3 linked regions of the Homo sapiens genome follow. The protein of the gene in region 3 interacts with the protein of the main gene of each other region in a biochemical or structural test. Each region holds a gene or a part of one and is shown on either strand. Other genes may lie near its edges.

Evidence for each region.
Region 1: of the proteins of RNF123 (region 3) and NFKB1, one has a biochemical effect on the other in vitro, tested with the Homo sapiens proteins (one study listed by BioGRID).
Region 2: the proteins of RNF123 (region 3) and UBAC1 form a complex in vitro, tested with the Homo sapiens proteins (one study listed by BioGRID).

The regions. Positions count from the first base shown.
Region 1 is NC_000004.12:102,507,769-102,511,416, forward strand, and holds part of NFKB1 (nuclear factor NF-kappa-B p105 subunit), read left to right. Parts: intron 1-3,111; exon of another isoform or gene 3,112-3,164; coding exon of another isoform or gene 3,165-3,181; intron 3,182-3,648.
Region 2 is NC_000009.12:135,944,318-135,947,965, reverse strand, and holds part of UBAC1 (ubiquitin-associated domain-containing protein 1), read left to right. Parts: intron 1-60; coding exon 61-168; intron 169-1,594; coding exon 1,595-1,697; intron 1,698-1,968; coding exon 1,969-2,077; intron 2,078-2,715; coding exon 2,716-2,938; intron 2,939-3,648.
Region 3 is NC_000003.12:49,699,545-49,703,192, reverse strand, and holds part of RNF123 (E3 ubiquitin-protein ligase RNF123), read right to left. Parts: coding exon 3,611-3,648; intron 3,526-3,610; coding exon 3,421-3,525; intron 2,967-3,420; coding exon 2,841-2,966; intron 2,722-2,840; coding exon 2,629-2,721; intron 2,558-2,628; coding exon 2,484-2,557; intron 1,703-2,483; coding exon 1,585-1,702; intron 1,383-1,584; coding exon 1,283-1,382; intron 1,111-1,282; coding exon 1,049-1,110; intron 860-1,048; coding exon 788-859; intron 561-787; coding exon 440-560; intron 1-439. UniProt on the Homo sapiens protein: Catalytic subunit of the KPC complex that acts as E3 ubiquitin-protein ligase. Promotes the ubiquitination and proteasome-mediated degradation of CDKN1B which is the cyclin-dependent kinase inhibitor at the G0-G1 transition of the cell cycle.

The sequences.
Region 1 (3,648 bases), on a different chromosome or scaffold from region 3:
TATTTCAAAAAATTATTTTTATTATTTATCATGTCATTTGGACTGAAAATACTATACCATATTTCAGTGTTAGGGCACACCTATCCCTCTTTATCCCAGACGTCAATTCTACCATATAACAAGTATGTAAAAAAGAAAACATAAAAGTGATGACAGACTCCCTAATCAACCTATTTATTGGTTCTAAGCCCAAGCCTGCAGTTCATTTAAATAGTGAAAATAGATTACTTAATTGTCTTAGAAAATATGTCTTCCATGACAAGAATTTTAGGAATGAGAAAATAACTATTTTTGGATGTTTTAACACAAATTCCCAAATCATGTTTTATTGATATTTGAAGAACCTCTTTGTCTACCAGTTCTTAAGTATAGGCTTATTTTGTAAGGCTTAAACATGTATTGGTGTTTGACTGTTAAGACTTGATCTATAACCTTCAGTGTCTTTTTCTTTTAAATGGGGTATGGACTTGGTAATGAGGCCAGAGGAGAATACCTTACAATTTATAGCATCTGCATATAATACAAGAACCTTCATGATTTATAAAATTAAAATGATGATGATGTGGAATGATGGAAGAAGCATGTGTGGGTGGCTATTTATGTAGAGGAAATTAGAAGTTGAAAGCAATGTTAAGAATTAAAATTAAATTACACTTAATTTTTTGCTCAGTTGGATAGTCAGGAAAGTACTTAAATCAGCAATTGATTTACGTAAAATCAAAACTGAAAACTGAATATACAATCTAGGAAATAGGAAAAAAATTTTTAGTGTGTTCATACTGCTAATTTCAAACCAAGCAAAAAACCTGGGGAACTACTTTTCAGAGGAGATGGCTTAAAATGAACCAAAAATATAGCCATTTCTCTACCCTATTCATTTAATGCATTCATTTATTATACTGCTAATACATGATAAGGTGAATAGGTTAAGCATCGTTTGTATATGTGTATGTGATTTTAAACCTGAGTCTTTTGAAAGATTGGTCAAAGCAAAGGATAATGAAAGCATAAAGATTTAGGGGGAAGAGTCCTCTATAAAACTAAGACTTAAACTTTGTTATCAACTTGAATGTGAAGATAGAATAATCTAGAAAGTGAATGAGAATTATAAATAAAAGGACAAATCATATATCTCATGGTTGAGAAATACAATGAGATAAATTGTATATCTCATCTCATGGAGGGTCATAATGAAAGAAGTAAGAGAGATTGCCCTTGGATAGAACCTTTCGGCAGACATTTCATAATGGATTATCATATTTTTGCTAAACTGGTAAGAATGGACTTTTCACCACATTATGAAAAAACACTTTAGAAGTCAGTTGCGATCAAGCAAATATAAGTACCTGGGAAATTAAAATCAAAAGCACAGCAGTCCAACAATAGTCAAATGCATTTACTCACTCTCATACCATATCATAGCGTTAATTTGAGATAATGTCTTTATGGTGTCTCTTTATATATTTACTCGATTTCCCATTTAAGACATTTAACCAAATTTAAAAAGCAATCCTTAGAAACTTTAAAAATATTTCCTATTTTAAACCATTACATAATCATTTACCCTGCAGTTACAATTCTTTTTTTGTGATGGGTGGGGAAGTATCCCATTTCTCTTAGAAAGTCTTCTGTAATAGCCAAATAGGAGTCAATCCAAGTTGCTTAGAGAGGTAGTTCAATCCTGTGTTGAAATAGATGACTTTTGGAGTAATTGTGCTATATTTACTGAGTATCTGTTGAACTGTAGGAGTCCAGTCATTCAAGGCAAGCTACAGAAATGATTTTATTGCTGAGGCACTTAAGTATCTTCACATCTATATGCCAATATTAAATTTCTCATCATCCTTGATCCCCACCCCTTTGCACAGATTGGTATCCCCAGCACATTAGGGAATGCGGTTGTTAGCCTGTTAGGGTCCATTCAGTAGATTTCTCATGCCAGAAATCTAGAAGCCCTTCTTATACATTCAGCTTTCTTCTTCAGTCAGTCACCAAGTTCTATCAAGGCAGCCTCCTCATCTCCAGAATCCATCCCTTCCTCGTTGAATTTCTAGATTTTATTTTTGCATTGTCTCCTGCTTCTAACCCATCGTTCATTTCGCATAATGGTCAGCTTTCTAAAGTGTAAATCGGATCATGTCTCTGCAGTGAATCCCAGTTGTCTTCACAAGCTGATTCTCGCACACCTCACCCCCTTACTCCCTCCGGTGTTCCCCAACCATCCCCTAATCTCAAATCCTCCACACCGACTTTCAGTTTCCTATCCACAGTTTCTGACTTTGAATGCCTTTGCTTATGCCCTCCCTGTATGAGAAGTGCCTTTTCTTTCCTAGCCATCCTGCTAACTTCTAAACCCTTAGGCCTGGTTTGAGCATCACCATTTCTCTCACTTGCCTTTCTGTTTTCTCCCTCCCCTTTCCATAAAGAGTTATGTGCCCCCATTCTGTGTTCTCCTGAATTCCTGTGGGTCCTAGAAAAGAAACATCTTGAGGGCAAGGAGTTCATCTTATTTACTTTTTATTTGCACAGCACCTGGTGTGTTTGCTGAATAAGTAAATACCGAACAAGATATCAAGAGACAGTGCTGCCAATTAACTGTGTGGCTCTGAGCAAGTTAATTAACTTCTCTGAGTCTTATTTTTGTTCTGTAAAAAAAATGAGGTTTGACAAAATGAGCATCTCTCTCTAAAATTATGTGTTTCTTTGATGTAATTGTATTAATTGGAAGACTTCAGATTTTCTTGCCATATCAAGATAGGTCAACTTAAGAAAAATGCATGTGAGTAAGTACCAAGCCAATTCTTGATTATCAGTATGATAATATGAGGAACTGCCCATTTTGTCGATAATAAGTTATAATTTTTGGTCTCAGTGTAGGTTCTTTCTCAAATCCAGATGTTTCTGGTGTTGCATTTTTTCATTATTATTCAGTCTCTCGCATTCATATTTCTCCAAAGAAATTTATGGAAAACTTGAGACAAAAATTGAATGTAAAGTTTAATATTTAAATGCTAGATTGATTCAAGGTCTCACTAATTATAACTATATTTGGAGGGAGAAGAAGGGGAGGTGGTGGTAGTATGAGCTGAATCCTCCTCTGTTCCTTCCTAGAAGGAACACAACGTCCTACATCAAGAAAAAAGACAGAAGCATATCTTGGAGATATGAAAAGAACCACCAGGTAAACTAAAAAGAAAAAGAGTGTTAAAAAGTCAGCCTTTAAAAAGCAGGATTGGAGATGAGGAGGGGTGGAGTAGGGGAAGCATTGCTTGTTTATAGAAGCTCTTCCATCTTCGTATAGTGTGATTTTTATTTTTTTATTATTTTTTCCTTCCTTTTTTTTGACCTCCAGCTTTAGTATAGTACAGTTGACAGAAATTATATATGTTTATGGTACACAAGATGATGTTTTGATATACATATGCATTGTGAAATGATTAAATCAAGCTGATTAACATAAGTAGGGTTTTATTTCTTTAACAGTGATTTATTTGAATATATGTTGAGTCCTTTCTATGTGCCAGACACAGTTCTAAGGACAAGGCACACAGTGCCAAACAAGACAGAAATCCAGAAATTCATGGAGCTTAAATCATGTAGTCTTTTCAGTTTTTAAAATTTTCTTGCTGGGCGTAGTGGCTCATATCT
Region 2 (3,648 bases), on a different chromosome or scaffold from region 3:
TCATCGTCTTTTTGCTGCTCTTACGTTCACCTCAGACTTTCTGATTACGTTTCTGTGTAGAAAAAACAAGACCAGAAAGCTCCAGATAAAGAGGCCATACTGCGGGCCACCGCCAACCTGCCCTCCTACAACATGGACCGGGCCGCGGTCCAGACCAACATGAGAGACGTGAGTGTCAGCCCAGAGCGGCGGCGGGTGCATGGGGTCCCCGTGTGGGGGATTGCTGTGGGGGGGTTCCTGCGGGGCGGGGCAGCAAGAGGAGATTCTCTGGGAGGATTTGGGGAAGCCGGTGAGCGGGTCTGTAGGACTGCACTATTTTGCATTTTTTCTGTAAATCAAAAATTATTTCCAAGTAAGAGTTGGAAAGCCATCTGAAGGCAGGATTGAAAAGATAGATACCCCTGGGAAAACGTCAATCCGGCCCTGAGTTTGGCAAAACGTTTAGATAGAATTCTGAACCCGAAGCGGGTGGATCACCTGAGGTCAGAAGTTCGAGACCAGCCTGGCCAACATGATGAAACTCCGTCTCTACTAAAAATACCAAAAATTAGCCGGGCGTAGTGGCAGGCACCTGTAATCCCAGCTATTCAGGAGGCTGAGACAGGAGAATCACTTGAACCCGGGAGGCGGAGGTTGCAGTAAGCCGAGATTGCATCATCGTACTCCAGCCTCGGCAGCAAGAGCGAAACTCCGTCTCAAGAAAAAAAAAAACACACAAATCTGAACCCGTGAGTTATTTTGGGTCAGAACATTCTAAGTTAAAAAAGAAAAGTGTTTGCAGTGCTCACGTGGACGCCGCAGCAGGCAGGGCAGGCACGTGCTGTGCCGGGGTGGGAGGACGGCTGGCTTCCAACTTCATCTGATGCCAGTCCAACCTAAGGGCACTGCTATAAGCCCTGTTTCATTTTAGGAATGAACCTCTTGGGGTGTCTTCCAGAGAGTTCTGTGCTGACCAGGGCATGGTGGCTTTTCCCCAGCAGCCAGCATGTGTGTCTCCCATCCTGTGTGTGTCCGGCTCAGAGGTATTTCTCTAGTGTGGTGTCCGCACCAAGGCTCACACTTGTGTGAGAGTAGGGACAGCTGACGCCTGACCTCTAGGCCCTGTAGCCAGGAGCTGTTCTGGAGGGCATCTCCGGTCCATCCCACGGCTCCTCCTGCCTGGGGAGGACAGTGATGGCCGCCGCAGACGCTGTGTGGCAGCCATGCCTCCACTGGGGGCTGGCAGACTCATGGGGGTGGAGCCTCAGATGATTCTGTTTTCTTCAGTGAAGCCAGAGAGGGTCTTCAGCTTGCCCTGCACCTGCGCCAGCTGGGCCGACGGTTTCCTCACAGGGCACAGGCTGAGTATCGGGCCAGCACTGAGTGACCGTCACCAGGCGTTCCTGTCCCTTTCCACTGGCTTCAGTCCCACCTGCAGGGAGGCTCTTGGCCCTGCCAATCCCCTGCCTTGCCCTCAGCTGATCCTGCTGTCTTGCAAGAAAGCAATGTCATCTCAACTCTCAGAATCAAGAGTTCTAGGACAGGGGAGCAAGTCATAGATCCAAGTAGGTTTGGTGGACATTTAGAGAATTGATCTCCTTTTTTTTCACCACAGTTCCAGACAGAACTCCGGAAGATACTGGTGTCTCTCATCGAGGTGGCGCAGAAGCTGTTAGCGCTGAACCCAGATGCAGTGGAATTGTTTAAGAAGGCGAATGGTATGAGTCAACCCCGATGCTGCATTCCAGGGCGGTTCACTGCCGGCCTTGGGGAGCGTCTGCAGCTCCACGCACTGACCACTGACCGGAACCTCAGTGCTTTATGGAAGCGCTGATGAGGGCCTGGGGCCTGCCTCACCGGCAACTCCTGTTGATGTGCCTGAGGGCGGGCAGGTGGAGCTCAGACAGATAATTGCTGCAAATGTTTGTGCTCAGATAAGGCCCCTGAACCTGAGGCTGGAGCCCTCATGGCCCTGTCGTCTCCCTGCAGCAATGCTGGACGAGGACGAGGATGAGCGTGTGGACGAGGCTGCCCTGCGGCAGCTCACGGAGATGGGCTTTCCGGAGAACAGAGCCACCAAGGCCCTTCAGCTGAACCAGTGCGTGGGGGGCCACCTCCTTCCCTTGCCGGAGACACCTGGGGCCTGGTTTTGTGGGGCTCCCACCGTGGGTGACGTCCTCCTACCCTAAACTCTTTGACTGAATCATTTCTAACGTGGGGTTTTGAAGAGGTACCTTAAATATGTGCCTCCAAAGTGTTTTTGGGGTGAATGTGACAGAACAGTCGTTGTGTAAATTCTCTTTGGGCCGTTGTATGAGAACTCAAGGTGAATCCCGTTCGTAGCAGGGACACGGCCTCTAACAGTCTTCTCAGGATTCCCGTGTGAGTTACTTGCCCTGCTTCTGTGTTCAGATCTAAAATGAATAATCCGAGATCCAGGGGCAGCCGGGGGCAGTTCCCCCTGTGGTCCCTATCTAAGCCCTCAGCAGATATCTCTGGGTCCGCTTGCCTCTCCTTAGACATGGGCTTCTGATTCTGCCCAGGGTCTCAAGGTAGTCTGAGGCAAGGACCAGCGCTTCCGTCGCACCTGTGTTCATTCAGGTTCTTGTTATAAGGGTCACCAGCTGATGCTGGAGAAGTCACTACCATAGCAGAGGCTCTTCTTGGGAATGGACAGGAGGCGAAGGCCCTGGTCCGTTAGTCTGGGGATGTTGGAAAGAGTCTCTTGCCTTGCAGCATGTCGGTGCCTCAGGCCATGGAGTGGCTAATTGAACACGCAGAAGACCCGACCATAGACACGCCTCTTCCTGGCCAAGCTCCCCCAGAGGCCGAGGGGGCCACAGCAGCTGCCTCCGAGGCTGCCGCGGGAGCCAGCGCCACCGATGAGGAGGCCAGAGATGAGCTGACGGAAATCTTCAAGAAGATCCGGAGGAAAAGGGAGTTTCGGGCTGATGCTCGGGTATGTGTTACTAGACCTGTCGCCAGGCAGAGTCGCTGTGTCTTCCCTTGAGGTGGCGCCATGGAAAGGAAGCTGGGGCTGCATGGCTGACCTTGGGCTGAGCTGGCTCCTGTCCCAGGAGAGAGAGAAGCTGGGGAAGGGGTTTACAGGTGGGCCTGGGAAATGGCGAGCCTGGGGGCGGTGGGCCTGGGGACCGTGGCCCGAGTTTCTGAGCACACCTGTAAGTTATCCTGGCTTGAATCCAGGCGCCCCAGTTTCCTCTGTGTTGCCACATTCGTCACCTTTTGAAAAACTTGATATTTTACAGTTCCTTCTGACCACTCATCCACAAGCCCCCCCTGTTCGGCAGCCTCTCTGCGGGGTGGGGGCCCTGCCCAGAGACCGGGAGGGTCATTTGCCGTCGGGGGTGTCCATGAGCGAGGGGCCGCTCAGGCTGCCAGCCGCCTCCATGGCACAGTCTGCAGGGCTGAAGGGTCCCTGCGCCTGTGTGTGTGGACCTTCCTCGCCCGCGCCTCATCTCCCCATTCTTCCTTCTCTCTCCTGTTCTTTGATTCGGGTTTTACTTCCTCCTTGGAGGTTTCTGTCTGTCTCCGACATGCTCAGATGGCAGATCTGCTCCATCTGCATGCTGTCGTCTCGTGTGGCACTGATCGTTTCCTTGGGGTGTGTGACATTGTGCTGTGGCCTCACCTGCGGAGCTCGTGTTTTCC
Region 3 (3,648 bases):
GGTACTCATGGCAGCCGTTCACTCAGGAGAAGCAGAGAGGCCCAGCCCCAGTCCTGTGGGATATCCCCCAATCCAGGGCAGGTAAGGCTCCCACTGACCCTTGGGGACTCAAACACAGGGCCCCCCAGCACCCACCCAAGGCAGCCCTATAAAGGACGCACAGAGAAATGGGGGGGCAAGGACGGAAGAAAAGAGCCCACAATGGTAGGAGCCCGTGGGACAATCAGAGCAAACACAGGATCGGCAGGCCTGCGGTGCAGGGCTCCTGCTGCCCCAGTGGAGAAGCCGCCTGTGGCTGGGTAGGACTCAACCAGGCAGGATGCCGGGGACAACTCCCCACAGCCCACAGCCTCAGCTCAGCACTCTGCACTAACATTAGGGGCTGCCCTACGCCTGGCTCTGTCCAGCCTCACTGACCTGGGACCCCGGTGCCACTCACCCTCACTGAAGGAAGCATGAGGATTGGAAGCCTTGTATTCATCCCAATAGTAGCGCAGGGCAGAGATCAGCCGGTGTAAGAAGCAGACCATGTACTCAGGGGGGCAGAGCATGGGCATGTTCTGTGGACACCAGGCATGAAACATGCATTGGTGCCAGTCCAGTGCCTTGCCCATTCCTCATCCAAGGCCCTGCCTGAGGGTCGAGGGTTAAGCAGGGAGGGAAAAGCAGCAGAGAAAAGCTTGGGGCTAGGCAGGGATGAGGCAGTCCGAGAAGTGCCAGGTGCTGAGGGCATGGCATGTGTAGTGCAGCCGGGGATCCACAGTGGGCTGGCCTGGAGGACACCTACCCCCCGGCCACTGGCGTTCTCCTGCAGAAACTTGCGAAACTTGGTCAGGAAGATATACCTAGAAGCTTCACCCTTTGAGAGAGGGAAAAGTGAGGCTGTGCTGAGCTGAGAATGCAGGCCCAGACTGGGCTGGCTCAGTGCTGCACCTTCCCCCAGCCCCTGCCATGGGAACCAAACCCAGTTCCCACCCTCTGGGTCTTAAGGCCCAGTGCAGCATCCCTCCCCACAGGGCCCCACCCAGGGCTCCTGGGAGTCACTCACCCCATTGTCATCTTTATTGTCCAGCAGCAGCTTCAGGATCTGGACCTGTAGTTCTTCCACCACTGGAGGTCAGGTGAGGAACATGGCCCTCAGGCTCCAGGAGATGGGGGGCAGGTTTGGGCCAGGGCTCCACCACCAGGGTTCCCCAAGTCCCACCTAGACATGGGCACCTCCAAGCACCCTCATGTGCACACACACACCTCCCACCCTACCCCGTGCCCAAGGCGGGCTGACCTTCGATGCGCTTCCTGAGCCGCTGACAGCCCCGTTCGTAGGCTCGCCGCCGCAGCCGCTCCTCTGCGGTCTCCTCCTTCATCTCCGTGCTCTCTTTGCCCTAGGCAGGGGTAGCAGGTGGAATACAGCAGGGTCACCTGGGACCTAGCCAGGCCTCCTTCACTCAGAACACCCACACTCCATCTCCAGGGCTTCAGGGACCAGGGCCAGTGAAAAGGCCTCATGCTAGATGCCCAGTGGCCAGATGCCCAGGCCAGGGGCCTTGCCATGACCTCTGCCCATCCCACTTGGGGTGCACTCACCTCCCTACTGGAGCAGTGGGGCCACCAGGTGGTGGGAATGAGCTCCTGCAGGCCGGCCTCCTCCACACGCAGGGGGCTCTTGATGTAAAAGAAGACGACGGAGCGGAGCACGTCGAAGCTGGCGGGTGTCAAGGCAGGGCTCTGCTTGCCAAAGGGCACTCTGCACACCCTCAAGAGTCCTTCCCCAGGAGCCCATCCCTGGATGTGCCTACCACAGCTCTCCCACCACCACAGGGGCATGTTGCTGCTATGTGTCTGACCCCCAGGGCATGCTCCCTGACAAAAAGCTGTGGTGGTTAAGCCCACCAGCTCCAGTACCCAGCAGGTGCACGATAAGGGCTTGTCACAGGAACAGATGACTGTGGGACAAGCTGGAGAGAGGGACTGGTGGCCTTTTCTCAGGCCCCAACTCTGACCTCTGTGTCTCCCAGCTTTGTGTCTGCCTCCTGGAGGCTGGAAGACCCCAGACCAAGAAAACGGCTACAAGCTGAGGCTTCCCAGCCAGGGGCTCAAAGCTATGCTCTCACTCACTCATGCAGTTCCCAACAATTCTGGGAAGCAGGAAGAGCTGCCTCCTTAAAGATCTTGCAGGAATCCCCACTGTGGAACATGAACAAAAGTGCTGGGCTGTGGCCGAAGAGGGCAGGCCCTGTGGCCCCTCCCACACCTCTGCGTAGCCCGAGTCTGCAGTCATTCAGAACCCCCTGGCTAGGCTGGCTGGCCAGGCTCAGTCCTTTGCTCTCTCGTCCTTGCTCTGTAGAGAAAATGCCACGTTGGGCAGCTCTGGTCCTCCTGATGCTCCCAGGGGACCCCTGGCCTGATGACACTCCCCTTCCTGGCCTCTGCTGAGTCCAGAGGGCACCCCATGTCTGGCCTGCCAGGCAGCAAGGAAAGGATACAGGACATTGCTAAGCAGAAACTTGCGGGACTTCTCATGCCTCAGGATGGCGATAGTGAGCCGCAGGTAATGGATCTGTGGAGAGGGGGCGTTCAGAGTGGACAGGCGAGTCCCAGGGGGCTCAGGGCAGGGGTAGGGGCTCCCACCTGTAGGCCCAGGTCTGGGACAATGGGTGAGAATCGGTACAGCCGAAGCAGAGACATCATCAACTGCTTGAGGCAATCTTGTACCTCGTAGTCCTGGGGGAAGAGATGCCAAGGCAGCCATGACTGGGGCCTTTTCCAAGATTCTCCCCGTATCTTCCCGACCCCAGTGAAGACTGACAGCCAGGCCTGAGGCCTGAGGTCAGGAGCCTCACCTCCATGAAGAGCCACAAGAGGTCCAGGACCTGGTGCACCACGGACTGTGCCTGTGTGGGTGTGCCCTTCTCCACGATGCCCAGCAAGAAGCTCATGAGCACAGCCTCCACCAGATACACCTTGCGCTGCACCAAGGCCAGGCACTGGTGAGGTGGTGGCCTTCCACTCTGGTCAAGGCACCCCTGCCCTGGCACATGGCCAAGGCACAAGCCTCAGGCACAGAGCCTTGAGCCACTCGAGCAACACCAAACATAGATGACCCCTTCCGGGGTCTGACTGAGGGACAAGAAGGCCATTGCCCCACGGCTCCTCTAAGGCTTGGCACACGCAGTTTCCTTGGCCTGGGATGTTATTATCCTTCAGTCTTCTTTCCAGGACATCCCCTGATGCCCTTGGTTGGCAATGTCCCTGTTTCCCTAGGGGACTGACTGAGGTCTGAGGGCCCTGGTCACATGGGGCCCTCGCCAGGTGATGCTGTGGGACCTCAGCACTGCAGCCCTCAGTGAGGGCACATCTACCACGGGCGTGTCTAGCATGGCCTGTCTCCTCCCCTCCCATGCCCCTCCCAATGCCGCTCACCAGAAGCGGTGCAAAGTGATGGAAGATGTGGGCCAGTGTGAGGAGGACGGTGGGCTGGCCCCGCAACCGCCACTTGGAGCTCTCCTTGTCCAACAGCCGCCCCTCCTGTGTGGAGGGGGAGGAGGGAGAAGTGTGAGGGGCAGGAGGCTGTGGAAGCCCCCCACCCCGCCTGGCCCAGACCCCAGCTCACCACAGGGTCCAGCTCCACACTCAGCACTGCCCGGAAGC